Linked DNA regions of Homo sapiens. The protein of the gene in region 3 interacts with the protein of the main gene of each other region in a pairwise test. Each region holds a gene or a part of one and is shown on either strand. Other genes may lie near its edges. The genes, in order: TMEM14A, TNFRSF10C, KCNK5, COMT, ATP5PF, ADIPOQ and TMEM128.

Evidence for each region.
Region 1: the proteins of KCNK5 (region 3) and TMEM14A interact in binary tests that used the Homo sapiens proteins (3 or more experiments, as listed by UniProt).
Region 2: the proteins of KCNK5 (region 3) and TNFRSF10C interact in binary tests that used the Homo sapiens proteins (3 or more experiments, as listed by UniProt).
Region 4: the proteins of KCNK5 (region 3) and COMT interact in binary tests that used the Homo sapiens proteins (3 or more experiments, as listed by UniProt).
Region 5: the proteins of KCNK5 (region 3) and ATP5PF interact in binary tests that used the Homo sapiens proteins (3 or more experiments, as listed by UniProt).
Region 6: the proteins of KCNK5 (region 3) and ADIPOQ interact in binary tests that used the Homo sapiens proteins (3 or more experiments, as listed by UniProt).
Region 7: the proteins of KCNK5 (region 3) and TMEM128 interact in binary tests that used the Homo sapiens proteins (3 or more experiments, as listed by UniProt).

What each region holds. Positions count from the first base shown.
Region 1 is NC_000006.12:52,681,113-52,684,100, reverse strand, and holds part of TMEM14A (transmembrane protein 14A), read right to left. Parts: intron 2,289-2,988; coding exon 2,187-2,288; intron 24-2,186; coding exon 1-23. UniProt on the Homo sapiens protein: Inhibits apoptosis via negative regulation of the mitochondrial outer membrane permeabilization involved in apoptotic signaling pathway.
Region 2 is NC_000008.11:23,101,655-23,105,720, forward strand, and holds the start of TNFRSF10C (tumor necrosis factor receptor superfamily member 10C precursor), read left to right. Parts: upstream 1-1,266; 5' UTR 1,267-1,467; coding exon 1,468-1,527; exon of another isoform or gene 1,528-1,904; intron 1,905-4,066. UniProt on the Homo sapiens protein: Receptor for the cytotoxic ligand TRAIL. Lacks a cytoplasmic death domain and hence is not capable of inducing apoptosis. May protect cells against TRAIL mediated apoptosis by competing with TRAIL-R1 and R2 for binding to the ligand.
Region 3 is NC_000006.12:39,194,976-39,198,475, forward strand, and holds part of KCNK5 (potassium channel subfamily K member 5), read right to left. Parts: intron 1,013-3,500; coding exon 901-1,012; intron 1-900. UniProt on the Homo sapiens protein: K(+) channel that conducts voltage-dependent outward rectifying currents upon membrane depolarization. Voltage sensing is coupled to K(+) electrochemical gradient in an 'ion flux gating' mode where outward but not inward ion flow opens the gate.
Region 4 is NC_000022.11:19,940,380-19,944,603, reverse strand, and holds the start of COMT (catechol O-methyltransferase), read right to left. Parts: upstream 2,801-4,224; 5' UTR 2,707-2,800; intron 1-2,706. Other genes in the region: TXNRD2 (thioredoxin reductase 2, mitochondrial isoform 5 precursor), read left to right, coding at 2,801-2,903. UniProt on the Homo sapiens protein: Catalyzes the O-methylation, and thereby the inactivation, of catecholamine neurotransmitters and catechol hormones. Also shortens the biological half-lives of certain neuroactive drugs, like L-DOPA, alpha-methyl DOPA and isoproterenol.
Region 5 is NC_000021.9:25,724,905-25,728,404, forward strand, and holds part of ATP5PF (ATP synthase peripheral stalk subunit F6, mitochondrial isoform a precursor), read right to left. Parts: intron 447-3,500; coding exon 322-446; intron 1-321. UniProt on the Homo sapiens protein: Subunit F6, of the mitochondrial membrane ATP synthase complex (F(1)F(0) ATP synthase or Complex V) that produces ATP from ADP in the presence of a proton gradient across the membrane which is generated by electron transport complexes of the respiratory chain.
Region 6 is NC_000003.12:186,841,540-186,845,509, reverse strand, and holds the start of ADIPOQ (adiponectin precursor), read right to left. Parts: upstream 2,801-3,970; 5' UTR 2,761-2,800; intron 1-2,760. UniProt on the Homo sapiens protein: Important adipokine involved in the control of fat metabolism and insulin sensitivity, with direct anti-diabetic, anti-atherogenic and anti-inflammatory activities.
Region 7 is NC_000004.12:4,241,724-4,245,223, forward strand, and holds part of TMEM128 (transmembrane protein 128), read right to left. Parts: intron 1-3,500.

The DNA.
Region 1 (2,988 bases), about 13 Mb from region 3:
GGTAGCCAGGAAGAAAGCTGTAACTGAAAACCAAACTAATTCATGAACCAGAGTTTCAAACATGTTATCAATGCTTGTGGGAAAACAGCGGGTACCATTTAAAGCTTTCTAACATTACAACTATTATGGATAGGTACTGAGTTGCCATTGTCTTGAAAAGATAAAGTGCTCTATTAAAACACTTCATGGCCGGGCCAGTGGCTTACGCCTATAATCCCAGCACTTTGGGAGGCAGAGATGGGTGGATCACCTGATGTTGGGAGTTTGAGGCCAGTCTGACCAACATGGAGAAACCTCGTCTCTACTAAAAATACAAAAAAAATTAGCAGGGCATGGTGGCACATGCCTGTAATCCCAGCTACTCGGGAGGCTGAGGCAGGAGAATTGCTTGAACCGGGGAGGCAGAGGTTGTGGTGAACTGAGATCACGCCACTGCACTCCAGACTGAGCAACAAGAGCGAACTCTGTCTCAAAAAAACAACAAAAGAACAAACAAAGAAACACTTCATCATCATCTACCTCGCCGAAAAGGTTTCTGGGTAAACAAACATGTTAAAATCCATTCCTGAAATATCTTCAAAAGAGAAAGACCTTTTCTTTTTCTTTTTTTTTTTTTTGTTGTTGTTGTTGTTGTTGTTGTTGAGACAGAGTCTTGCTCTGTCACCCAGGCTGGAGTACAGTGGCGTGATCTCAGCTCACTGCAACCTCCACCTCCCGGGTTCAAGCAATTCTCCTGCCTCAGCCTCCCGAGTAGCTGAGATTACAGCCATGTACAACCACATCCAGCTAATTTTTGTACTTTTAGTAGAGACAGGGTCTTGCTATGTTGGCCAGGCTGGTCTTGAACTCCTGGCCTCAAGTGATCCACCGGCCTCAGCCTCCAAAAGTGCTGAGATTACAGGCATGAGCCACCATGCCTAGCTAAGAAAGTCTTTTTCTAACCTAAATTTCTATTCAAAGAACACGCCTTGAAGGCTAGCACTGAGCTTTATTCAACTTCCCTCAGAAACACTAAGTAGCACACTTGGACCCACAGGAGACACTCATTAATGTTCAGTTAACTGAATATAAAGAAAATAGTTAATGTATCTTTTACAAGTAAGATCTGATTAATAAAAAAAAAATACTAAAAAGAAGGCTGATTGGTTTTGTTTTGTAGCATCCCATTTTGGAGAATTTGATGCCTGGAGACTAAATAATAGTCTAAGCAATAGTATTTTATTCAGAAGCATCATGTCAGCCTTTTTGGAGCTGTATCTATGAAGGGAGAGGTAGTTTTATGTAAGAGATTAGGACATCAATGCCACAATTTAAAAACAGCTTTCAAAGAAAAACTGTTTATTGATATAAAAAATAAAATGACTGACAATAAATACTTGTGAACTATTTAAATGCATATCAATAAAAATCCTAATATCACTACATCTGGCTGATACATCTAACACAACCTCATTACTAAAAATATCCCTAGCCCCTTATAAAAATAACTAAAAAAAAAAAAAAACCCCAAATCTCTCACTCTCCTTCAAATATAGAACAATTTTGTCTTCATTTATATTTTTTTCCATACACGACCAAGGCACTTTGAATAATAAATCAACTAGAGAAAATGTCCTTGGTATGGTTTTCTAAATCTTCACTGTGTATCTCTTTCAAGTGAGATGAAAGTCAAGTGTCCTGGTGACTTTAAACACACAGGTTTCCATTTTTTCTGTGGATATTCTCCCATTAAACTTAACAAGGGAAGTAGCTAAAAAAGCGTCAGCCTTGCTTTTTTAGGTTAAGTCTTAAGGCAGTGCAGAATCTAAAAGATGTTTGTGAATTAAATGAAATAATGCAAGGCTGTCTCTTTTTTAGTTATTTCCACAGCAATGTAAAAACTATGCTAAATATGCATTTAGGAGAGTTAGCAGAAAATCTGAAAATAATTCCTTGCTTTTCCTAATTCAATTTTTCTAGTAACGAGTTTTTATAGAAATATTCTTCTGAGTTGGAAGGCCTGGTAGCAGTACCATCATTTTTTATCAGGTCTTTCTAGAAAGGAATAAGTGTTGTATTCAGCCTCAACACATGCATATGGCCATTTGCCATTTGACTAAATATGTTCTAGTATATCTAGCATAGGGTATCAAAAAGATCACCTCCAATGTTTGAGTCTCTGTAACCAGGAAAAATGCCTTACTTACACAGTGACACTTTTACATCTCGTTTGTCATTGGAGACACGGTAAGCTCCATAGCCGGCCAAACATCCAACAAAAAGACCAGCAATCAAAGACGGAACACCACCTGGAAGGGGAAAAAAATATGAGATCACAAAGAGAATCCCAAAAGGAAAGGAATTCATTCCATTACTTCTAGTATGATACAGGCACCTTCAAATGTATTCCTACTTGGGCACAGTAACTGGACAAAGCCAAATTAAGAATAGGCCTCTTCATGGATACTTTCTAGGAGATGACTGTTTCCTGCTGAACCCAAATGCAAGGCAGAGGAGCCCTGAGGGCACAGCAGTGCAGTGGGGTTAGATGTCACTTGGGGAAATAAGAAAACCTGCCTTGTTCTGGTGGCTTGGACACTGATTACATGATCTTGGACAATTATTTAACTTCCTTAAGCCCTTCTTTTTTAATTTTTCCTATTCTCTTTGCCTCCTTTTTGCAATGAGGTTGTGATGATAAAAACTAAGATGCAAAGGTAGTTTTAGTTTATAGAGGTAAAGACAGAAGTGCTATACAAACCAAGCAATGGTTCCATCCTGAATAATTAACAAACCTTCATGCCTCAAGATGTCAGGACTCAAGGACTAATAGAGGCCCTACCAAGAAAGACGAAGAATCAGAATACTGACCCCAGCTACCCAGTCCCTATCCCATGCACTCACCCCACCAGTACACTCCCAGCCCCCAACCCACATACCCACCCCAGAGCACTGTGGCAAACACCAAGCACTTTCTGTGCACTGGACAGTGGGTTACATGGCAGTGAC
Region 2 (4,066 bases), on a different chromosome or scaffold from region 3:
CGTGGCTCTGTGTTAATGCTGTCAGTCTTCCTGAAGTCCTGTCCTCTCACCTCCTGCCTAGATCTGCCCCCAGCACACATTCCTGACTCCACACATTTCTCAGTGCCTGCGACCTGGCACACATTTCTGATCCGAACTCAGTGCCTGGGGCCTGGCAGGTGCCCAGGGCACTCCATTGCTCAAATCCAAGCCTGTGGAGAGGATGACATATCATTCCCAGGTTTCTGATGAGCAGAAAAAAAAATCTTTGTTTCTATAGTGCTATCCTCTTTTATCCACCATGTGAGAGGTCAGGAGCCGACTCACCCCAAGGGTCTAGGAGTTGTGCCATTGACCTTACTGCCTAGGGTCACAGGCTGGCACCCTTCAGTACCACACATTGGATCTCTCCACACAGCAGCAGTGTGCTTAACTCAATGGGGAGGTGAGTAGCCCAAGGTCAGATAGTTGGACCTGGATAGACACTTGACTGGGGGACAGGCTTTGGAAGCCACTCCCCTGGGCCTCCTCTGTCCATGGGGCCTCAATACTAGAGCCCACAAGGTCGGCCAGAGAGTGTCTGTGCCTCGACCATGCAAAGGGTGCCAGGTTGTGGCTAGGGATGCCCCCGGGGTTCCTCTCCCTCCTACCTACTCCTCAGCCTCTGCATGTGCCCGTCATGGCCCCTGTGTCCTTCATTCTGTCCACTCATGTGTTCACTGGGCCCCTCCTTGGTGCCAGGCACCCGCTACTGAGGGATACCAAGCCCCTGCCAGAGAAGCTTGGAGCTGGGTCACAGCAGCAAGGAGGCTGGAGACATCAGTGGCATCAGTGCACTGGTCAGTGAGGCCGCTGTGGGAGGAGGGAGTGGGAGCAGAAGCTAAGAGTGGACTGAAGTCCTTAGGCCAGGAGGTAGTTCAGGGTTTAAGAAGAGGAGAGACAGGCGTCCCGGGGAGGGAGCAGGCTCAGGATGGGCCTCCAGTGCCTCCTCTGGAGCTCACTACCCAGACTACAGCAGCGCAGTGGGCAGCGCCTCAGCTCCTTCCCCTTCTGCTGCCTACAGCCTGGACAGGACCCGGAATCAAACCGCAGGCCCTGGGTCACCGCTGCCGGAAAGAGCCAGTTCCTGTCCGTCCATGCACCCACCACCAAAACCCAGGCCTTCCTGGAGGTGCTAGGGGAGGCCATGCCCCTTTTCTGAGTGCTTGGAAGTGACTGCTGCAAGTGACAAGTGACCACGCCTTTTCCCCCGCGGGTATAAATTCAGAGGCGCTGCGCTCCGATTCTGGCAGTGCAGCTGTGGGAACCTCTCCACGCGCACGAACTCAGCCAACGATTTCTGATAGATTTTTGGGAGTTTGACCAGAGATGCAAGGGGTGAAGGAGCGCTTCCTACCGTTAGGGAACTCTGGGGACAGAGCGCCCCGGCCGCCTGATGGCCGAGGCAGGGTGCGACCCAGGACCCAGGACGGCGTCGGGAACCATACCATGGCCCGGATCCCCAAGACCCTAAAGTTCGTCGTCGTCATCGTCGCGGTCCTGCTGCCAGTGAGTCCCGGCCGCGGTCCCTGGCTGGGGAAGAGCGCACCTGGCGCCGGGAGGGGGCAGGGAGACGGGGACACGGCAGGGATGCCTGGCCCTGGTCACCTGCGGCCGGGCATGTCCGGGCAGGACGAACTCGCCGTCGGAGTCAGGGGAAGAACTGGGTCCCCGGGCTGGGCAGGAGGGACCCGGCCGCGAGGGAGCAGAGAGGCGGTCCCCCTGGCTGCCCCGAGCCCGCGAAGGGAGGGAAGTTCCAGAATCGAGAGAGGGAGGGAGTCAAGGTGGAACCCATAGAGTGAGCCTCCTGAAGACACAGAGCGGTTGCCTCTCTCATTAATTAATTAATTAGTTAATAAAATTAACCCCATGTTTACATTCTTAAACGTGTTCCTTGGAGATCGGTTTAACCAACAGCCAGTGAAAAAACTTTTCAGCGCTGTCTTTAGCAACTTTCACCTCCTCTGTCCTGAAAGTGGCAGGAAGCCGGAATGTGGCAGGAAGCGGTTAACCAAGGTGCTGCCTTGGTTAATGTCTTCCACTACCACCCGTGTGTCCCCTCTGTATCCCATAGGCAGGACCGGGGCTGGCCCCTTCCTTCAGCATAAACGGTGTAAAGTTGTTGTGAGTTGGCTTTGGAAACTGAGATTGGTAGTAGTGTGAGTGCAAGGACATATTATGTATAAAATATGCAGACTTCTAGGTCTCTTTCAGATTGATTGAGGTTTTTGCTAACAGCCCTTTTTAAGATTCTTTATGTAATACAAAAAAAAGAAAAAAGAAAAAGAAAAGGCCAAAGCAAGGTTACAGAAACCATGAGAGTTTGCATGTTGTCTTTCTACAAATTAATGCTAAATTCAGAAAAGCAGTAACATTTTCACCTCTCAAAAATTACACAACTGACTTTTAAAATAGTTTATAGTGGGTGGACTTACCTGAGGCAGCTAGAAGAATGGCTGTGTCAGGACAGTGGCCCTGAAGAGAGAATGCATGGATGACCAGTGTAGACAAGGCCAGCAACATCAGTTTCACGGTTTTGGGAATGTGAACTCTATGCGTCCCAAAGGAGGCTTTAATCCCTCCATCAGTCTTGCCTTATTAAATGCATTTAAATGTACAATCACTTTGTTAAATTTTGGAGCTAACACAAATCACATTAGATGTTTTATGGCAGTACATTCAGATTGATCTTCTTTTAAACAAGGGTATTGTATTTTACTGCATGGGTAAGCCACATTTTAATTCACTGTTGCCGCCTAGGGGCAGCTGGTTAGATCCCATCCTGACGGCCTTTGCTAATTCCAACAGCATTGTACTAAATACCCTTGTATGTATCGTGTGTCCACATATCCATGCACACCAGCTTATTGGGCAACTCCTTACAAGTTGAATTCTACTTCTCCTTCTGTGGGATAAATGACTTCAGAAGTTTCTTTAAATGTTCACGAATTTTCCTCCAAAAAACCACTGAACCCAGCTTACAGTCACACCTAGTCCACAAATGTGCCTGTGTCCCTACACCTTTGCTACACTTAGCTTTCATTCTTTACTAGTCTAAGATGTAAAACATAACACATCACATTGCTATGTATTTTTGTTTCCTCATGGTATTAGGAATTTTCAAGGATATAGGAGTTTTTTGGTACTGGGAGTAGACCAGGGTATCCAGATGAGACAGCAGGGAAGACTGAATTCTGAGCTGTGCACTTGGAAAACCCTGGTCAGTTGGGGCCAGTCCCTGCCACCCACCATGCCTGTGAATGGAGATAAGGTCTCCATCCTCAGCCTGTCAGGGTGACTTCAGATGAGCCTGGAGCTGAGTTCAGTTCCTGACCCCAGGTCCTGGCTCTGTCAATGCTGGGCTGGTCCAATCTGTGCGCCAGGTCCTTCCACACCATTCCTCTCTCTATCAAAGTAGGAATTGAGAAGTTCCAACGGCTCAGAATCTCGGACTCTCAGGCTGTCAAGGACTCCTGAGATTGAAGGTTGTGAATGGCTGGGCCCTGCCGTGCTCCCCCTCTGGCTCTGTGACTCTGGTGTGGCCCCAGCTCCTGCCTGTAAAGTGAAGAGGAGGTAAAAATCTTCAGCAGCCCTGTGTAAACCTCAGAGGGCTGTGTTACCAGGTGTGGGAGGACAAATCACATCCTCAGGGCTGGTGTCACTCACTCTGGACTGGATCCCCAGGCACCTGTCCTCCATCCAGCAGAGGCTGCCCCTGTTCCTACCTGCACCCTGGTACTTGCTCCCTGAGCTTGGGGCAGAAGCTTCTGAAGACTAGGGTGGAGCACCACGGGGAGGGGCCATGGAGGAACAGAGGAGCCAGACGTCAAGTGAGGACAGCGATGGCACTGCAGGGCCACAGCCTGGTTTACCTGCCATGCTTCCAGTTGTCCTTCTGGTAGGCGCCTGGCCCGGGTTGTAGTTTGAAGAGTGAGCAGGAAATGTCTCCATCCAGGTGGCTGCAGATGGCTACTCACCCAGGCTGTACTGAGAGGCCACAGTCCCAGTTCTGGTCCTCTGTCGTGTATCCAGGAGTGGCAGGGCAGTG
Region 3 (3,500 bases):
TCCCTGAAGGCAGGGACTAAGCCTGGTCAACAGGTCTTCCACTAGTCTATATGGTACCACTGTGCAAGTTATAAGACATGCTCTCTGTGTAGATTCCCCAGAAGCACTGTGGTAGATGGTCTCCAAAGATAGCCATCCTCCATTCCCTCCCTTCTTATGCAACTGCTCACATCAAGGTGTCATCTAATCCTCTTCCCTTGGAATCTGGGCTTTAGTGGCTTGACAACAGAAGCAGTCTAGGCAGCGGAAGAGACGCTGGACAGGTGAGGTCTAAGAAGCCTGCTGCTTTTCGCCTTGGTTCCCAAACACATGCGGAGGCCTTGTGTTTTCATCCCCAGCTGAGCTCCCAGCCAACAGCCAGCATCAACTGTCAAATCTGTGATGGGAGGAGCCATCTGGGCCATCAGATGAGTTTGGCTTTCAGAAGACTCCAGCCCAGCCATTGTTCGACTGCCACTGCATTGGGAGCCCAAGCAAGAACCAGCCAGCTGAGCCCAGTCAAGCTGACAGAATGGTGAAAGAGAAGAAGCTGCGTTCTGAGCCAAACTTCTGGACTGGTTGGCTATGCAGCCTGAGAACTGAAACAGACACCCAGCTTGGTAAGTAGTCATGATCTGGGTTTCTGCAATGAGCAGTCTGGTTAATCTCTTGCATGGCTCTGGCCATGAGGCTGTGTCATTGTTTCTGCTCAAAGAGCCCAGGTCAAGACTCAAGGAAACCTTCCCAGGCATGATCAGCTACCAAGGACTTAACAAATCCCTAAGAAAGTATCAAAAGAATAGCCTGCAACTGATCTGATTGTACCCCCAACAGGGCTGAGTGACCAGAGCTGGGTTTCTAGAAAGGTTCTGAGGAGCTAGGGCATGGATGTGGGTGTCCTACAGGTCCCAGAAGACTTACCAATGGTGGTAATGACGGTCGCTGCAAAAATCATTGCATTGGGCCAGTTCCAGTTGTTGAAGGTCTGGTTCCCTGTGATGGCCACACCCTGTCCTGCAGCATCAGATACCACCTAAAATGAGAAACAGTAAAGGTCAGAGCTGAGGCCACACTTAACAGATGCTGATTGACAGAACTGCACTAAACTCCTTGTAAGCATTTTCATTTAGTCATCACAAGAAGAAGGTGGCAGTGTCTCCATGTTACAGATGAAACATTGTATAGAGGATCAGAGAGGTTACCTGATTTACCCAAGGTAAAGATATGAACCCAGGCAATCTGGCTCCAAAGTTCATTCTTTCACTGAGTCAATGCTTCTCCAACTTACTAGCATGCACCAGGATCACCTGGAAATCTTGTTCAACAGACTGCTGGCCCCTACTACTCCGAGTTTCTGATTTAGGAGGTCTAGAAGGAACATTTCTAAACATGTTCCCAGGTGATGCTGTGGACAGGGACCACACTTTGAGAACCACTGCACTAGATTAATTCTGCCTCTCAAAAAAAGCACATGTGAGGCAGACACACACAAGGAGGTCCCCTGTGCCTCACCCAGCCCTCCATGGAGGGTGTTCTACCTGCAGAGACCAGGTCCTTGTTCAGGGTTGGCTGGGGAGGGGCCCCCCATATACCCTTCAGCCTACTGTAGGATACCTGCTCAGGTCAGCTCAGTGCCCTGTTGACTTGTCCTCGGAGGGCATGCAAATCAGCAGGTCCTCCTTTCCCCCAGCCTAGGACTCTAATGTACCCTCTCCCCTGTGGGATCTCACTTCCCTCCCTTCCCTGTAGCCCTTTCTCTCTCTGCCCTGGGCTGAGCAGCTGTCTGGGAAGGGACAGATCAGAGGGTGAGTACATTTCAGGGTGACTCATAACTGTGCTATCAATCCCCAAAGAGCTTCCAGTAACTGTGGATAGCAGGTGAGAGGCCACCTGGGGATGGGATGTCCCCCTGGAGAGTGCGAGGAGCGGTGGGGCAGAGGTGTGGGGAACTTATCTACTCCTACAATACTGACAGCTGCAAACCTGTTTCCATCTGACTAGGCCCCAATTCTGCTATCACCACTGGCTCCAACCTATCTGTGGGGCTTTATCAGCTGGCAGGGCCTGGACCCCAGAAGTCACATAAGAAGGGACTCTAAATCTGGGGCTCAAGTCCTGTCCCCAAGGAGCGCCTGCAGATGGGTAGGCCATCCAGACCAGAAGCTAGGCATTCAGCCAAATTGCCTATAAAAACCAAGACAAGGACTGAGAGAGAAGAGACAGAAGAGTGAGGGATGGAAACAGAGGGAGACAAAAAAAACCTTGTTTCTAACCTACCCAGAGCATGACTGAGGTTTGGTGGGAAAAAAAGGGCATGGGTGGGTTGTTCTGAAGGAAAGTGTAATTTGCAGAAGCAGCAGCCGGCCTGCGTAAATGGATCTGCACACTCTGCAAAGAATTTTCCATGATGGCACGCTTGTCTGTCAGACCATCAAACCACACAGCTCACTGCGCTGCCTCCTCCGGCATTTCACAGCATCTCCGAGGCTACGAAGGCTGTGCAGCATCAAAGTGGAAAGTGGGGACCATCGCATCAAACTCTGGCCAAGGCAGCCCCTGCCCTCAGAGAGCTCTCTGTCTAGCTGGCCAGACCATTTCAATGTGAAATGGCTAAAGGACATTTAGATACTAACAGGCCAACAGGAGAGCTAAAACAAATACTAAGGACCATCCAATGGGTTTCTGAAAACATCAAATCTGTTTGGAGCAAGAGAATGAGGAAGTACCAGGGCCACGTTAATGTTAAACAGATGGCAGAGAAAGCGGAACCACCCAGCTCTCCTTTGGCATCTACCTTTGCTACCTCAGATATCGATCTTGAATGGGACCGGCCTACAAGAAAAGAGTATATAAGAACATACAAGAACATCTTGAAATGATAATTGAATCACTGATCACAGGTGAGGCTGCAGCACCACCTCTGGTCATCCCCATGGAATCATGGGGAACAGGAAAGATGTCAGAAGACAAGCTGTTCCCATTTTTCACAAAAAGGAAAAGAGTGGATTCTAGAAATTCAGAAAACAAACCTGAACTCTTGCAAACTTCAAAATGGGGAGAGGAGAATGTTTGGAACATGCAGAAGAGGAAGTAGTGGGCACTAGAAACTAGCACAGATTCACCCAGAACAAGTCATGCTCAGCTAAGTGCATCTCCTTTTCAAAGGGTTGCAAAGCCTTGAAGTTCTGTGGAATGTAATCCATCTAGATATCAGCAAGGCAGCTAACAGATGGGATTAAAGAAATTCATGTGGACAAGACACAGAAATGTCAGTGGAGCCAGGATTAATTGGGTCCATTCAAAGGCAGACAAACAACCCTAGGAGGTATTGATCATTATCAACCCAGACTGAGTCTCCACCATCATGCTTAAGGCCTGGTTTTCTTCAATATTTTAAACCACAGCACAGTGAGGACAGAGATGGTTTACTAATCCAATGTGCAGTGGATGCAAAATTGGGGATAAGGATGGGATGGGAAGATAGCTAACACATAGCAATGGCAGTATCAAGATTCAAAATC
Region 4 (4,224 bases), on a different chromosome or scaffold from region 3:
ATCCACCCGCCTCGGCCTCCCAAAGTGCTGGGATTACAGGCGTGAGCCACCGCTCCCGGCCTAATTCTTTTTTGAGATGGAGTTTCGCTCTTGTTGCCCAGGCTGGAGTGCAGTGGTGCGATCTCGGCTTACTGCAGCCCCCCACCTCCCAGTTCAAGCGATTATCCCGCCTCAGCCTCCTGAGTGCACCACCACGCCCGGCTAATGTTTTGTATTTTTAGTAGAGACAGGGTTTTGCCATGTTAGCCAGGCTGGTCTCGAACTTCTGGACTCGGGTGATTTGCCCACCTCGGCCTCCCGAAGTGCTTGGGATTACAGGCATGAGCCACCGGGCCCGGCCTATCCTTGAGGTTTTATGATCTGCCTGTCACTTGGACTGTCACTGCCTTCCTACACGTCAGCCCTTACCAAATCCTCCCATCTACTTTCCTTCAGTATCTGGCTACCTACCACTCTCTTCAGACTGACATTTCTAATTTGTCTCCTCCCTGACTTGGTGTCACCAAGAACTCAAATCCCTATTGGGACTCAGGTGGTCTTGTAGCTGCCCTTTGCCCCCAGGATCTGAAAAAAACAGCCCTGCAGACTGAAGCCGGAAAACTTGATATAAACTTGAAAGAACTCAGAACCACAACAGATTCTCCAGGGGCAGCCTTTGTGCCTGGAGCTGCTGCTACACAGGCCGCCCAGGAAGACCCCCCCTCCAGCTCCTGCATGCCACATGCTCTCTCCAGAAAGTAACCACAACTGGGATACCAATGCCTATGCCATCATCACAGACTTCACACCACACACCAGGAAGTCCCTGAGTGCCCCTGCTGGCCTTGTTAGGGCCCAACGGCCAGAAACCTCAACTGCTGCCCTGTAGGCTCAAAAACTGGGTTTATCAACAGCTCCATTCATCTTTGTTTTTATTTCTTTCTTTCTTTTTATTTTTTTATTTTATTATTATTTTTTTTTTTTAAAGATAGGGGCTCTCTGTTGCTCAGGCTGGAGTATAGAGGCAAGATCATGGCTCATGGCAGCCTCCGCCTCCCAGGCTCAAACGATCTTTTCACCTCAGCCTCCCAAGTAGCTGGAACTATAGGCCCATGCCACCACGCCGGGCTAATTTTTAAATTTTTTGTAGAGATGGGGTCTTTATGTTGCCCAGGCTTGTTTCAAACTCCTGGCCTCAAGTGATCCTCCTCGGCCTCCAAAAGTGCTGGGATTACAGACATGAGCCACTGTGCCTGGCCTGTTATTTTTGTTTCCTCATTAAATGCTTGACTGCTTGCATCATCCAGCAAAAATCCTTTGCTACCAAGTCTCAACAGATGGTCCCGCTGGTAGTTTATGAACACAACACAGAACAGAAAATGGACGGGGACTGTTGAGAGGAAAGAAGCAGGTCTCTGCTCTTCTTGCACAGGGGGAGTGCTGACAAAGACCCTCCCTCCCCACACTCCAGCCAGGCTCCTTAGAGTCCCCTTCTCCACTGGGCCTCACCCTGGCCTATCTAGGCTGGAACGAACACTAACATAGCTCCTAACAGCTCAAGGCCACATTCCCAGAACGATCCTAGCCCCCTCTAAAGTGCCTGCCTGAGAAGTTCAAGGCTGCCACAAGAATTTCCTGTGTGTTCCAGCCAACACCTGAGGATGGGGCCCCTGTCTCCCAGTCTCTGTGGGAGGTTGGGGGCCTGACTTCGGTAAGCCCCAGTGGCAAACCCAGATCAGTTGGTTTCACAGGGGCCAACCCTCCCTTCCCAGTTTTGGTGATTTTCTGTTTCCCTAACTCTACTGAGTCCCCACCCCTTCCCACTCCCTCACTCTCCCTTTAAACTCCAGGCACATCTAGACAAATCAGCATGGAGCCAGCTTTTTCTCATGTTGTCAGTAGTTACCAAGTAAAATCTGTTTTTTCTGCATTAACTAGTGTCTCACTGGGCTCTGCAGGGCAGCTCCTACGGTCCCTCAGGCTTGGAGGGTCACTTTAAACAATAAAAAGCAACAGGACACAAAAATCCCTGGCTGGAAAAATCCAAAAAGCAGGTCTGTTAGCAGGGCAGGCCCGGAGTGACTTCCCCTTTCTCTAACATTCCCACGTGGTCCTGCACACCACACATCCCCCCGACCCTGGGGAGTCCTGGGCCCCTTCCTGGTGGAGCAGCCTCTCTCTTGCAGGGAAAGGCCCTGGGGTACCCCAAGGCCTCCAACAGGGAGCCTGTTGGAGAAGTCACCAAGGCCCTCTGAGTCTGGGGCTCCACAGACCCTCCCCCAGGCCTCCTGCAACTCTCCAGCTCTGAGAGTCTGATCCCAGCCCAAGGACCAAGTGGGACCCTCCCCTGTGACTCTACCACACCCTCACCAGGTCAAGCCCTACTCCAGGGAGAGGCTTATCCTCCTGGTCTGGACCCCCAACCCAGTCTTGAAGCGGGATCTCTCACCGCTATCTGGAGCCCCTCATCACAGCACAGATCTTCAACCTCAGCTTTCCACAAGGAGTCTGGGGACCCCACCCCGGTCCAAAGATCCCCACCCAAGGTCCGAATTCCCCAGTTCCCATCCAGATTCCCCACCCCAAGTCCGGAGACTCCCACCCAACGTCAGATCACTTCACAGCGGTCCGAATTCCCCACACCCTATCCCAGTGTTCCACCCTAGGTCTGAAGGCCCCCGCCCCGAATCCGGCCGCATTCGGCCCCGGTCTAGCCAGCGCTCTCACCTCTCCCGCGACGGCCCGCCCGGGACTGGACCCGCCCCGGTCCGGCGCAGGCAGCGCGGCGGGCAGCCCTAGCTGCCCCAGAAGCCCCACGACGATGGCGGCAATGGCGGTGGCGCTGCGGGGATTAGGAGGGCGCTTCCGGTGGCGGACGCAGGCCGTGGCGGGCGGGGTGCGGGGCGCGGCGCGGGGCGCAGCAGGTAGGATGGGGTCGGGGCGTCCCCGCGGTAGGTGTCCGCGCGGCCGGGGTGTCCTCGTGAGGGTGTCCGCGCGGCGGTGGCCAGGGTGTCCCCGTGGGGGTGCCCACGCGGGGGTGTCCACATACCGGCCTCTTGGTCTAGTCTTGCTCAGGAGTCCGGGCTGCTTCTAGCCACAAGTAGCCCCCTTCCCAGGTGGGGAAACTGGGGCTGGGTGCCTTGTCTAAGGTCCTGCTGTGCTGACTGCACCTGTGGTCTCCCAGAGCTGGTATCCCAGTAACAACTACAGTTCTGAAGATGATGATATCCCACCTCCCGAGGTCACCAGGCACCGGCCCCACTGGCCAGACTTCCCAACTTCTCCCCAGACCCCTAGACTCTAGAGGTTAGAGGCTGCACAGAGCAATGGGAGGATACACACTCGTCCTCCTGGAGCCCCTGAAGAACAGTTAACTAAATCAGGACAATAATCATAACTGAGCACTCGAAGCAGAGGCTGGGTGTCTGGTCACTCAGGACAGTTCAAGCCTCATCCTGTAGGACAGACTCCCCTAGATCCGACCAGAGCGCCACCATATCTGTTATGTGTGGCCAGTTTCATTCCATGCACGACAACATGGTCCCCCACCATGCAGGGGGCCCCTCGACCCAGCCCCCTGGATGCTTGTGACAGCGAGCAGCTCTCCCCACAGGCAGTGAGTGTAGAGGGGTGTAAGGACGGGGTCAGGGCTCCTTCCCAGGGATGGCGGCTATGGGAGGCATGGTGGCTGGCCCTCTGCCCGCGGTGGACTCGGGAGGGAGGGCTGACTGTGTGTGTGAATGGGCAGAGTTGGTGCTATGGAGGTTTTGGGGGTCTCCAGGACGGAGGGTGGCCCAACAGAGTTCTGGGAGGCAGTCACCACCTCGTGGCCTTGCTGAGACCTGGAACCCTCAGCCAGGGCACTCCATCTTTCAAAGCTTCTTGGCTGCATGCGTCAGGTGGGCAAGCTCAGGAAGGTTAAATGCACCCGTGCTGGCGGAGTCCCATAAAAGGGGATTCGGCATCAAAAGGAGGAAAAAGGTTCAAAGGGCATTTATCATGGGGTTCAGAATCACGGATGTGAGGGGCGGTAGTGGGGACAACAGACAGAAAAGCTTCCCCTTCCCATACTCACAGTCCAGACACGGCAATAGCCAAATTCCAAATTTCTAGGTATTCTGGACTCAGAATGGGGAATATCATACGAGACTTAGGGGGATAATGCCCTTATCTTCCTATTTTAAGGGAAAGAACAAACTGAACCTTCTATGCAAAATAGGATGATGATCCTGGTCCTCCCAGTAA
Region 5 (3,500 bases), on a different chromosome or scaffold from region 3:
TACTATAATTCTCCCCAAATGTCAGATGAGGAGACATGCACCAGTTAATTACTCAAGATTACACAGCTGAAAGTGATTATAAGGATTCAAGATTGGGCAGTTCGATTTCAGATCCCCACCATTTAATCACTATGTTATGTGATCTCCTATACTGCTCTTATTCTAACAGCAAACATTTAGCCGGCAGCTTCTCAGGCACACGTCATGGTCCTAATAAATTCACATGTCAACACTGTCATTCAGTTCTCTAAAAATCCAGGTAAGTGTAAATATTCTTCACTTATCCCCCACAAGAATGAATCTGTGATTTATAAGACGTACCTTCAAATTTGAAGGTGGGAAATGTATTCATGTCTGCATTACCAAACATTTGCTTGAGCTTAAAAAGCTCCCTCTCCAGCTCTTGCTGATACTCTGAACTAGCATCAACAGGTCCTCCAGATGTCCTGTTAAGTAAATGAGCAAACAAAAATTAATTTTGTGTACTAGCTTACAAAAACAAAATTACTTTTCACCACCACATTCCAACAGATCTTTTTTTTTTTTTCTTTTTTGAGACGGAGTCTTGCTTGGTCGCCAGGCTGGAGTGCGGTAGCATGATCTTGGCTCTCTGCAACCTCCGACTCCCTGGTTCAAGCGATTCTCCTGTCTCAGCCTCCCAAGTAACTGGGATTACAGGCACACGCCACCATGCCCAGCTAATTTTTGTATTTTTAGTAGAGAGGGGGTTTCACCATGTTAACCAGGATGGTCTCGATCTCCTGACCTCATGATCCGCCCGCCTCGGCCTCCCATAAGTGCTCGGATTACAGGCGTGAGCCACCACACCCGGCCAATAGACCTTTTTAAAGCATTCATGTAGTCAAAGAAAAGACTTCAGAAAGAAAATAAGTATTTCTACTTCAATTTCAATTCAAACTATTTTATTACGATGAGGTTTCACATAAATGAGGTATCCTCAAACCAATCTCTAACATTCAAGGTTTCTCAGAATCACGGACACTCACTAAGTCAGAATTTCTCAGGGTCTAAGTTGCAAAAGGTGTATCGTTAAGTCTACAGGCTCTGGAGTCAAAGACTGGTCCTGTTTGAGTGTAAGTTCAACTATTCAGCAACTGCGTAAACCTGAGTAAGGCACAGAGCACTCTAAATTTTAGTTTCCACAACTAAATATGAAGGTTCTACCAAACGAGGGTGTAAATGCACACGTACCTCTAAGCACAGTGCCTGGCACACAGTGAGTACTCAATTATTATCTACTAATATCATCTGCTTTAAGTCAGCCATCACTAAATGGCTTTTAAAGACCTTAGACTTTTAAGTTTCTACCATAGGGGTCCTATTAAAGAAGCAAATTATTTCCTACCCTCAGAGATTTTGCAATTTCGAAGAAAAAAATTACATGTTTACAAACATTTATGCTGTAAAGGAGTGATGTGATGAGCTTCAAAGACATGATTTAACAAAAAGCTATTCAAGTTGAGGAAGAGATTACTTTTGCTAAGCTAATCAGGGAAAATTTCATTTTAAAAAGGTGGCATTTGAGAAACATCAGGCATCTGGGGCCAGGGTTTATTTTGAGACCTTCTAAGATGGAAAAAGCAAAGACATAGAGGTGGTAAGGGATTGGCTGTATGTGGGGAATGCTAAGGAGTCTAGATGGAAAAACCAGCAGACCCCAGATCATGGGAGGCCCGGAATGTTAAGCCTGGGAGTTTGTATTTTATTTGCCAAGCAATAAAATGACAAAATTAGACTTGTGCATTTTGGGAAAATAAATATAGCATTATGGACCAGCAGCAGGGCCAACTGGGTCTCATTAATTCTTTGAAGAAATTCTTCTGTTTTTGTCATAAATACTACTGCCTACCTAGCAATGAACAATATTCTAAATGTAAAAAAATGTACACATGAAAATTCCTTCAAGGGTAATAACATTTTTACACATGCCTATGATCAAAGTATACAGTCTTATTTAAGTTAAAGAACATGCACAAAAAATACATAGGTGGCTCCAATTTAAGAACTTGTTATCAATATTTCTTGTTAGAGACCCAATTTTCTTTTAGATTAGCACTGTCCAATAGACCTTTTTGTGATGTTAGAAACGCTCTCTGTCTGTGCTGTCCAGTGTGGCAGCCACTAGCCATATCTGGCTATTGAGCACTAGAAATATAGCTAACATGAATGAGAAAATGAGAAACTGAATTTATAAATACACTTAATTGTAATTAGAATTTGAATAGTCTCATGGATAACGGCAACCAAAATGGACACTGCGGTTCTAAATAGATCCTTCAACTAGATACTCTAATACTGGTTACAGATGGATGATGGCTATTTTAACTTTAATATGCACTCTTGTGATAAAAAGAGGCCAGAAATCATCTACCTCCTCAACTGAATGTAAGTCTTGCTGCTTATCTTGCTTATTACTATATTCCTAGGCTCTCACATGATGCCTAGGACAAAGCAGTCACTCAGAAGATACTTGTTCATTTCACTAGCAAATACTAGGCATGCTAATGTATTGAATAATTTAATTTTTATAATATCCTATGAAATGGGTAAGTACTACCATCATCCTCCTTTTACATATGAGAAAACTGTCCTACAGAAGTTAAACCTGCCCAAGGTCATAGAGCTAATTAGTGGCAGTGCTGGATGCCAGCCCAGGGTCTACCCTCAGAACTCTCCATGTGTTTGTTTGCACAAACGAATGAATGACCCACAAACAAGACTCCTTAGATATAGGGTACACCTAAGAATTCACTTCTTACTAGATAGGCTTTTAAAGACAGTTAAAATGATGCAAACAGCATCAATACTCTAATATAACACCACATTTGGACAGAAGACACTCAAAATTCCCTGACGAGTCCTGCACATCTGGTTACTTAACAGTATGATTTTTGGCAAATTCTAACTTTCAGCCTTGGTTTTCTCATATATAAAATTGGGGTAACATCTATAGGGTTGTTGTCAGAGTTTCATTACCATGTCTACAAAGCACAGAGTAACTTACTACATTTTAATCCCTTCACTATTTCTCCTCCTCAGTTTTGGCAATGGTAACACCTTTGTTAGTTACCTCGCCTCAAAAGTCAGTTTTCTTTTATTGTTCCCTCTTCTTCCTCTCCAGCAGCTCACCAAAACCAGGCATCAGTGTTTCAATGTCTTGACTCTGTCACTTTTACATTACCACTGCTATAAAGTCAAGGTTCTCATCAACTAATGCTTAGGTTACATTTTGCTAACATGTCTGTCTTTGCTCTCTTCTCATTTCAATCCTTCCAATACCCTGGTTAAAATTATCCTCCTAATTCAGAGTAATCTTCCATCCCCACAGTCATGTTCAAAAAGCTGTAATTTCTCACAAATGCCTACCACATATCTTACTTGCTCAGTCTACAATCAAGGCCTTCCATAATCCCTCATTCTAACCCCATACCATCCTTATACTCTTCATATACCCTATACTCCAGGGAAATAGAATTATA
Region 6 (3,970 bases), on a different chromosome or scaffold from region 3:
ATTCCAGCTACTTGGGAGGCTGAGGCAGGAGAATCACTTGAATCCATGAGGCAGAGGTTGCAGTGAGCTGAGATCGCGCCACTGCACTCCAGCCTAGGTGACAAGTGTGAAACTCTGTCTCAAAAAAAATAAAAATAAAAATAAATAAAAGTCAAAGTGTAGAATATTGGCAGTTTCACACGGTGCAACCCAATAATAAATGGCATAACCAGGAATCAACTCAGCTTTGCCTAGCTCCCAGGAGCTTTGCCCGAAAGCCTTCACTCAGCCCTGGGAGAGCTGTCAATATCTCCATGCCCAACACACACACATACCCGCACCCATACACACACCTCCACCTATGCACGCGCACACCCACACACCACATCCACACATCCACATACGTACGCACCACCCCCCCCCACACATACACACCCATCCAAATGAGTGTGCGCGCGCGCACACACACACTCACACACATACATACTGTCAAGGAACTAATAAAACAGAGCATCCCACGCACCACCACATTTTTAGGATAAGTCTCTCTCCACATGATTGAATTTCTGATTGAAATTCCTGATTGAAAGTATCTCTCCAAAAGACATCACCTCTTGACTTTAGCCGTATGTCTGGGACCACCGGTCCACTGGCTTGACAAGGAGTAGGTGGAAAGTTTGTCCCTACAGCCACCTTAAAAAGAGCAAGCATATAATCCCAGCCTTTTGGGAGGCTGAGGTGGGAGGACTGCTGAGCCCAGGAGTTTGAGGCCCCCCAGCCAATATAGTGAGACCTCATCTCTACAAAAAATTTTTAAAAATTAGCCAGGCATGGTTGCACACACCTGTAGTCCCAGCTACTCAGGAGGCTAAGATGGGAGGGTCACTTGAGCCTGGGAAATCGAGGCTGCAGTGAGCTGTGATTGCACCACTGCACTCCAGCCTGGGTGATAGAGTGAGACCCTGTCCCCAAAAAAGACAAGGAGCCAGTCTTGTGTCTATTTTTTTTTTTTTTTTTTTGAGATGGAGTTTTGCTTTTTTTGCCCAGGCTGGAGTGCAATGCTGTGATCTCAGCTTAAGACTCCTCGGCCAGGCGCAGTGGCTCACACCTGTAATACCAGCACTTTGGGAGGCCGAGGCAGGTGGAATATGAGGTCAAGAGATCGAGACCATCCTGGCCAATATGGTGAACCCCATCTCTACTAAAAATATAAAAATTAGCTGGGCGTGGTGGCGCATGCCTGTAGTCTCAGCTACTTGGGAGACTGAGGCAGGAGAATCGCTTGAACCTGGGAGGCGGAGGTTGCAGTGAGCTGAGATTGTGCCAAAAAAAGACTCCTCAAGACTTAAGGAAGAGTGGCAGCAGGGACTGCTGAGGAAGCTGCCGGGCTCCCTGTGTACCACTGGCCTTCATGAACAAAGCTGACACCATCATGCTCCTTCGGACATATTCTGCTAGCATAAAGGGACCCCCATCTCCCCAACCGAATTAGGCAGAGCTGGCCTTCCTTCTAGCGGAGTTCCTAGGAGTGAGTTGGTGCCACCCCTTGTGAGGCTTGATCCAAAAACCAGAACCTCTCCAGACCAGGGATCCATGTCCTCTAACACAAGAGGGGCAGACCTAACCTCTAAAATCCCTCCCACTCTAACCTTCAGCATCCACAGCTCAAAACAACCAGGATGCCTCAGAAACAGCACTCACTGGGGCGAGCAGGATTAGGCTTCAGAAAAACCAGGTAGATCCAGTTTCTTCTGTCAGAAAATGTTTTTTTTTAATTACAATTTTTCATAAGTTGCCACTATATGCCAGGCTTTTCTCATTTTATCTCATTAGAGCCTCTTTTTCTTTTCTTTCTTTTTTTTTTTTTTTTGACACAAAGTCTCGCTCTGTCACCCAGGCTGGAATGCAGTGGCAACAATCTCGGCTCACTGCAACCTCTGCCTCCCAGGTTCAGACAATTCTCCTGCCTCAGCCTCCCGAGAAGCTGGGATTACAGGCACCTGCCATCACGCCCAACTAATTTTTGTATTTTTGGTAGAGGCGGGGTTTCACCATGTTGGTCAGGCTAGTCTGGAACTCCTGACCTCAGGTGATCCACCCGCCTCGGTCTCCCAAATTGCTGGGATTACAGGTGTGAGCCACCATGGCTGGCCTCATTAGAACCTCTTGATTACCTTGTAAGATATCCCTATACCTACATATATCCCCAAATCCATAGACAACAACCATGTCACACTCATTGTATCTTGTGAACCCAATCCACTGTCTAGCCCATAGAATTTGCTCAGTAAATATTTGCTGAGTAGAATAAAGTGGCAGAGCTGGATTCCTAATTCCAGTCTGAAGTCAGTGCTCAGCTTGACTTTTCTGAAGCTGCCTTCATATATGCTTCTTCCTTTGCCCTACCTGGTCAAGCTAAGAGGCAATGTATTCCCTTATCCCCCTTAATCGAATTGGACTTCATCTGTGGACAGACCCTTCCACCTTACTGACCCTAACTTTTTCTCAATAGGTATCCTGCTACAGAGCGAACTGGGCAAAATTCAGAATGGTTCCATGCATCTTAGAAGGAATGTCTGAAATAACCCTTTCTCTCTTGGGGCTGTGGGAGAACGGAGGAAGAAGCCCAGTGCATATCTGCCTCCACCAGTGCTGCTCTGACCAGAGTATCCACCTGTATCCACTCCCACACTACTACGGACGGGAGAGCCTGGGTGATCCCAGCCAGAGGCTATGCATGCATCCCCCACCCAGCCTGGAACTTCACAGAATTGCTCTTACCCTCTGGTATGGAATCAGAACCACAGACTGCAGTCAGAATGGAAGTGAGGAGGAGATGGCCCAGCCTCAACAGCCTGGTACTCACGGGGGCAGGCAGTCCCCACCTCACAATTGTCATTTCCCATTGGCCAACTCAGTGAGGGCCAGAGGCCGGTGGGCAGGCACATGTCCCTGGCAGTTGCCCACAGCCTGCACCCTAGGGAACCTGGTACAACCCAGCTTGGGCTTCGGAAGCCAAGTGGAGCTTCAGTCAAAGCACTTGTGTTTCCAGGCCTTGACCCTTATTTTGCCTCCTACAACAGCAACAGAAGATGGGGCAAAAGTCAAAACCACAGCAGGAAAACAAGATTTTTTTCCTGCATCTGACGGAGAAACTTCCTAATGTAAATGAATTAATTGCTCAGTGGTCCAGGAGGTCTCCCCCTCCCATAGATTTGCCCTAATAAGTCAGGGACGCCAATTATCACACCACAGTCTTGCTCACTGTGCATGATTAAGTCTGAGACTGTGTACGTTCAGACAGTGAGTGCTTCAGAAGGGAGCACTGTCAGAGGGGTCTGCAATCAGGTAAGAAATAGAGCACATCCTCCACTCTCTGACCTGGACCCTGGATTTAGGAAAGACCTTGCACATGAATTCTGAGAACTGGGGTGTGGGGAAGTTCCTGGAGTGGTGTGGGGCTTGGCAAGTTAAAAAGGCCCTGAATTCTTAAAGCTTGTGGCCTCGAATCGTAATTTGAATCTAATATAATAGAAAACTTACATAAAATGTGATATTGGAATACCATCTTTCAAGATTTTTTGGTTCCAAAATTTCGGATAACATTTTGACAGCTACCTTGGTATGTGTGTGTGTGTGTTTGTGAGAGAGAGAGAGCCTGTTTTTCCAGTTCCTTAAGCATATATATGCCTATTCTGTCTCTTGTGGAACCCAGCTCTGGCCTAGAAGCAGCCTGGAGAACTGGAAGCTGCCACCCACTTAGGTGTTCCTAGAAAGTTTAGGCTTGAAGTGGCAACATTCAACACCTTGGACTTTCTTGGCACGCTCATGTTTTGTTTTTGAAGGGCAGGATCTGAGCCGGTTCTTGCAAGCCACACATTCTGATGAATTAAATTACGACCCCAGCAAGGGCTTAGGATGCCAGCACCAACTTCAACAAGACATCCAAAACAGAATTTTCTCAGACAGAGGCAGGGCAAGTGTCTGCCTG
Region 7 (3,500 bases), on a different chromosome or scaffold from region 3:
AACTTGAGCAAGACTAGTTTTGTGACTCTAGGCAAATTACCTAACCTCCGTGTGTTTCAGAAATATTGACAGTACTTAACTCAGAATAGCTGTGAGAATTAAATCAAGTGGTCAGCAAAGTGCTCCTCACAGCTGACTCTCAATCATAATCATTATTATTCCACTCAAGTTATTTTTATTTTCATTCATTTATTTCTGAGCCGGAGTCTTGCTCTGTTGCCCAGGCTGGAGTGCAGTGCTGCAATCTCAGCTCACTGCAACCTCCGCCTCCCAGGTTCACCAATTCTCCTGCCTCAGCCTCCCAAGTAGCTGGAATTACAGGCACTGGCCACCACGCCCAGCTAATTTTTGTATTTTTAGTAGAGATGGGGTTTCACCATGTCCATATTGGCCAGGCTGGTCTCGAATTCCTGACCTCAAGTGATCCACCTGTCTCAGCCTTCCAAAGTGCTGGGATTATAGGGGTCAGCCACCATGCCCAGCCATCACTCAAGTTATATCTATGAGGAAAAAATGTCCATGTTCATCTTTAGGAGTCTTCAAAGACCTCTCTTCTGCTAGAGCATGCAATCTCACTGGGGGGAGTATCGCCCCCAAAGTGAAGAAAAAAATATGGCTCTAATTGTATGTATAAAGCATAGATATGCATGCAGTATATAAATGATATAGTTTATCTAATTCCACATTCCACAGGAATGATTAGGAAAAAAATGTCTAAAAAGGCCTTTTATCATTACCCCTAAGGAGTCTTTTTAGACATTTTTTTCCTTTGCCAACATGTGGATATGAGAAAAAAAAAATTTTTTTTTTTTGAGACGGAGTCTCGCTGTTGTTGCCCAGGCTGGAGTGCAATGGCACGATCTCGGCTCACTGCAACCTCCACTTCCCAGGTTCAAGCTATCCTCCTGCCTCAGCCTCCTGAGCAGCTGATATTACAGGTGCCCAACACCACACCCAGCTAATTTTTGTATTTTTAGTAGAGATGGGGTCTCACCATGTTGGCCAGGATGGTCTTGAACTCCTGACCTCAGGTGATCCATCCACCTTGGCCTCCCAAAGTGCTCGGATTACAGGCATGAGCCACCATGCCCGGCCTAAGAAAATTTTTTAAACTGCCTGAACAAAATATAATACTATCAGTCAGTGGTCCTCGGCCCTGGCTTTATATCACAGTCACCTTGCACCTTTCTAAGAGAAACTACCTAGTCCCCAGTTTCCAAAATTCTGGGCCTGAGCATCTAGGATTTTAATTTTACTTTCTGTCTTTAACTCCACTGTTGATTTTGATGCACACAAGCCGAGTATTTTAAACTGTGATTTCTAAAGCATCACAGTGTTGTTTTGTTATTATTTATTTACTTATTTAATTTTTTTAAGACGGAGTCTCGCTCTGTCGCCCAGGCTGGAGTGCAGTGGCGCGATCTCGGCTCACTGCAATCTCCACCTGCTGGGTTCACGCCATTCTTCTGCCTCAGCCTCCCAAGTAGCTGGGACTACAGGCGCCCGCCACCATGCCCAGCTAATTGTTTTTTGTATTTTTAGTAGAGACGGGGTTTCACCGCGTTAGCCAGGATGGTCTCGATCTCCTGACCTCGTGATCCGCCCGCCTCGGCCTCCCAAAGCGCTGGGATTACAGGCGTGAGCCACCGCGCCTGGCCTGTTTTGTTTTTAATATGGACCTGCTCTCCCATCTTTGAACAATATAAAGAACCTTAAGGCCTCAAGCTTCTAAACTTAGGCTAGAGCCAGAGGAAAAAGAAATCACCTCAGGCGTCAGAAGAACGAGCCATTTTAGCCATTTTCCAAAAGCAGAACTCAGCCGGCACTGTCTTTTGTGCAGCCCTCTCATTTCATGGCTGTTCAATACCCCCCAACTCCCCTTAATGAGTCCTTCCCAAGAAAACAATGCGACTCAAAATCCTCAGCCTTTGAGAATGCATTTCTGCCTTTTTCTCTCTAAGATGACACCTTGTTGAGGACAGATCTATGACTTCTACTTTCTTTCCAACCCCCACAGCCCTGGTCCCAGTGTCTGCGTCCCGGCTTTGCCACACAGCAGTTATGTGGTCCTGGGCACTCCACTTCACTGCAGTTGCCCCCAAATATCTTATGTGTGATCATTTCTTACTCTGCCATTTCTCTAAACTACTAAAAATACCCAATATAAGGACACAAATACAGAAGTTCTCTCACATCTCCTAAAACCTCAAAAAGGTCTCAGTCCTGAGGCTGACCTGGACTAGATATCCCTCCTAGATGCTCCCATGATACCCTGCGCCTACACTTACAAAGCACATACCATGCGGCCTGGTAACTTGTCTGCTGCAGCCTAGAATGAGCTGTTGGAGAGCTAGAAATGCACCTTCCACGTGTTTGGCACTGACAGCCAAACACATCTCAGCCTCCATAAAGTATCTGATGAAGGAAAGAGCAGCTGCTATTGGTGGTGGTTAAAGTACCCATCCCCTCCAGCCAGGTGCAGTGGCTCACACCTGTAATCGCAGTACTTTAGGAAGTCAAGGTGGGAGGATCACTGGAGCCCACAAGTTTGAGACCAGCCTGGGCAACATGAAGAGACCTCGTCTCTACAAAAAATAAACCAAATTAGCCAGGCATGGTGGTGTGCGCCTATAGTCCTAGCTACTTGGGAGGCTGAGGTGGGAGGATCACTTGAGCCTGGGAAGTCAAGGCAGCAAGCCATGATCGCACCACTACACTCCAGCCTGGGTGACAGAGTGCAGCGAGACCCTGTCTCAAAATAAAAATAAAAATAAAGTATCCATCCCTCTTTTCCCAGCCCAAGTTCTAAGAGAGATGACTGAGTCAAGCTGATGAAGATTAAATGTCTGTTATACTGATGCAGCCGTGGGAAGAATATGGCTTTGGTGAGTGATGACAAAGCACTTCCTAATACTGGGTCTCTGACACCCAGAAACAGCCTTACCCACTGGGTTCCAGGTCAAAATGAAAACCTAGAGACCTTTTCCTGTGGGGACTGCCCCTGTGGAATGACACCATGGGAAGGCAGACCAGACTCTGCGCTTCCTATGGGCAGCCGACTTGCAGCAGAAGAAGGTGCTGAGCTACCTTTGTCCAGTTCTTCATCACACACTCAATCAGTCACGCCACCTCCCACAAAGGAGTGAGTGACATGGAGGGGCAGAAGATGGGAGTGTTTAGGGAAAGTTTCTCCCCTAGAAAGTAGAGGACAGTTTAAATAAACTCCCCTCTGCCTACTTTCCCCTGTGGGCTTTTTCCTTGTGGCTCGACAGTCTCCTCCGCCAGAAGTCACTGCTCCTCCTGAAGGCCCTTGAGGAGAAATCATGTGTCCTGCCATGATACGAGGGGACCACAGTCCTGTCTGCATCTTCCTACCCCCACTGGTACTTCCAAATTATTACTCTTGACCCTAAGCACACCAGCCCTCCCAATGCCATGATGCTCACCAACATACCTCTCCCTTCCATTTCTTATCCAAGGGTCTCCACATCACTCTCCAA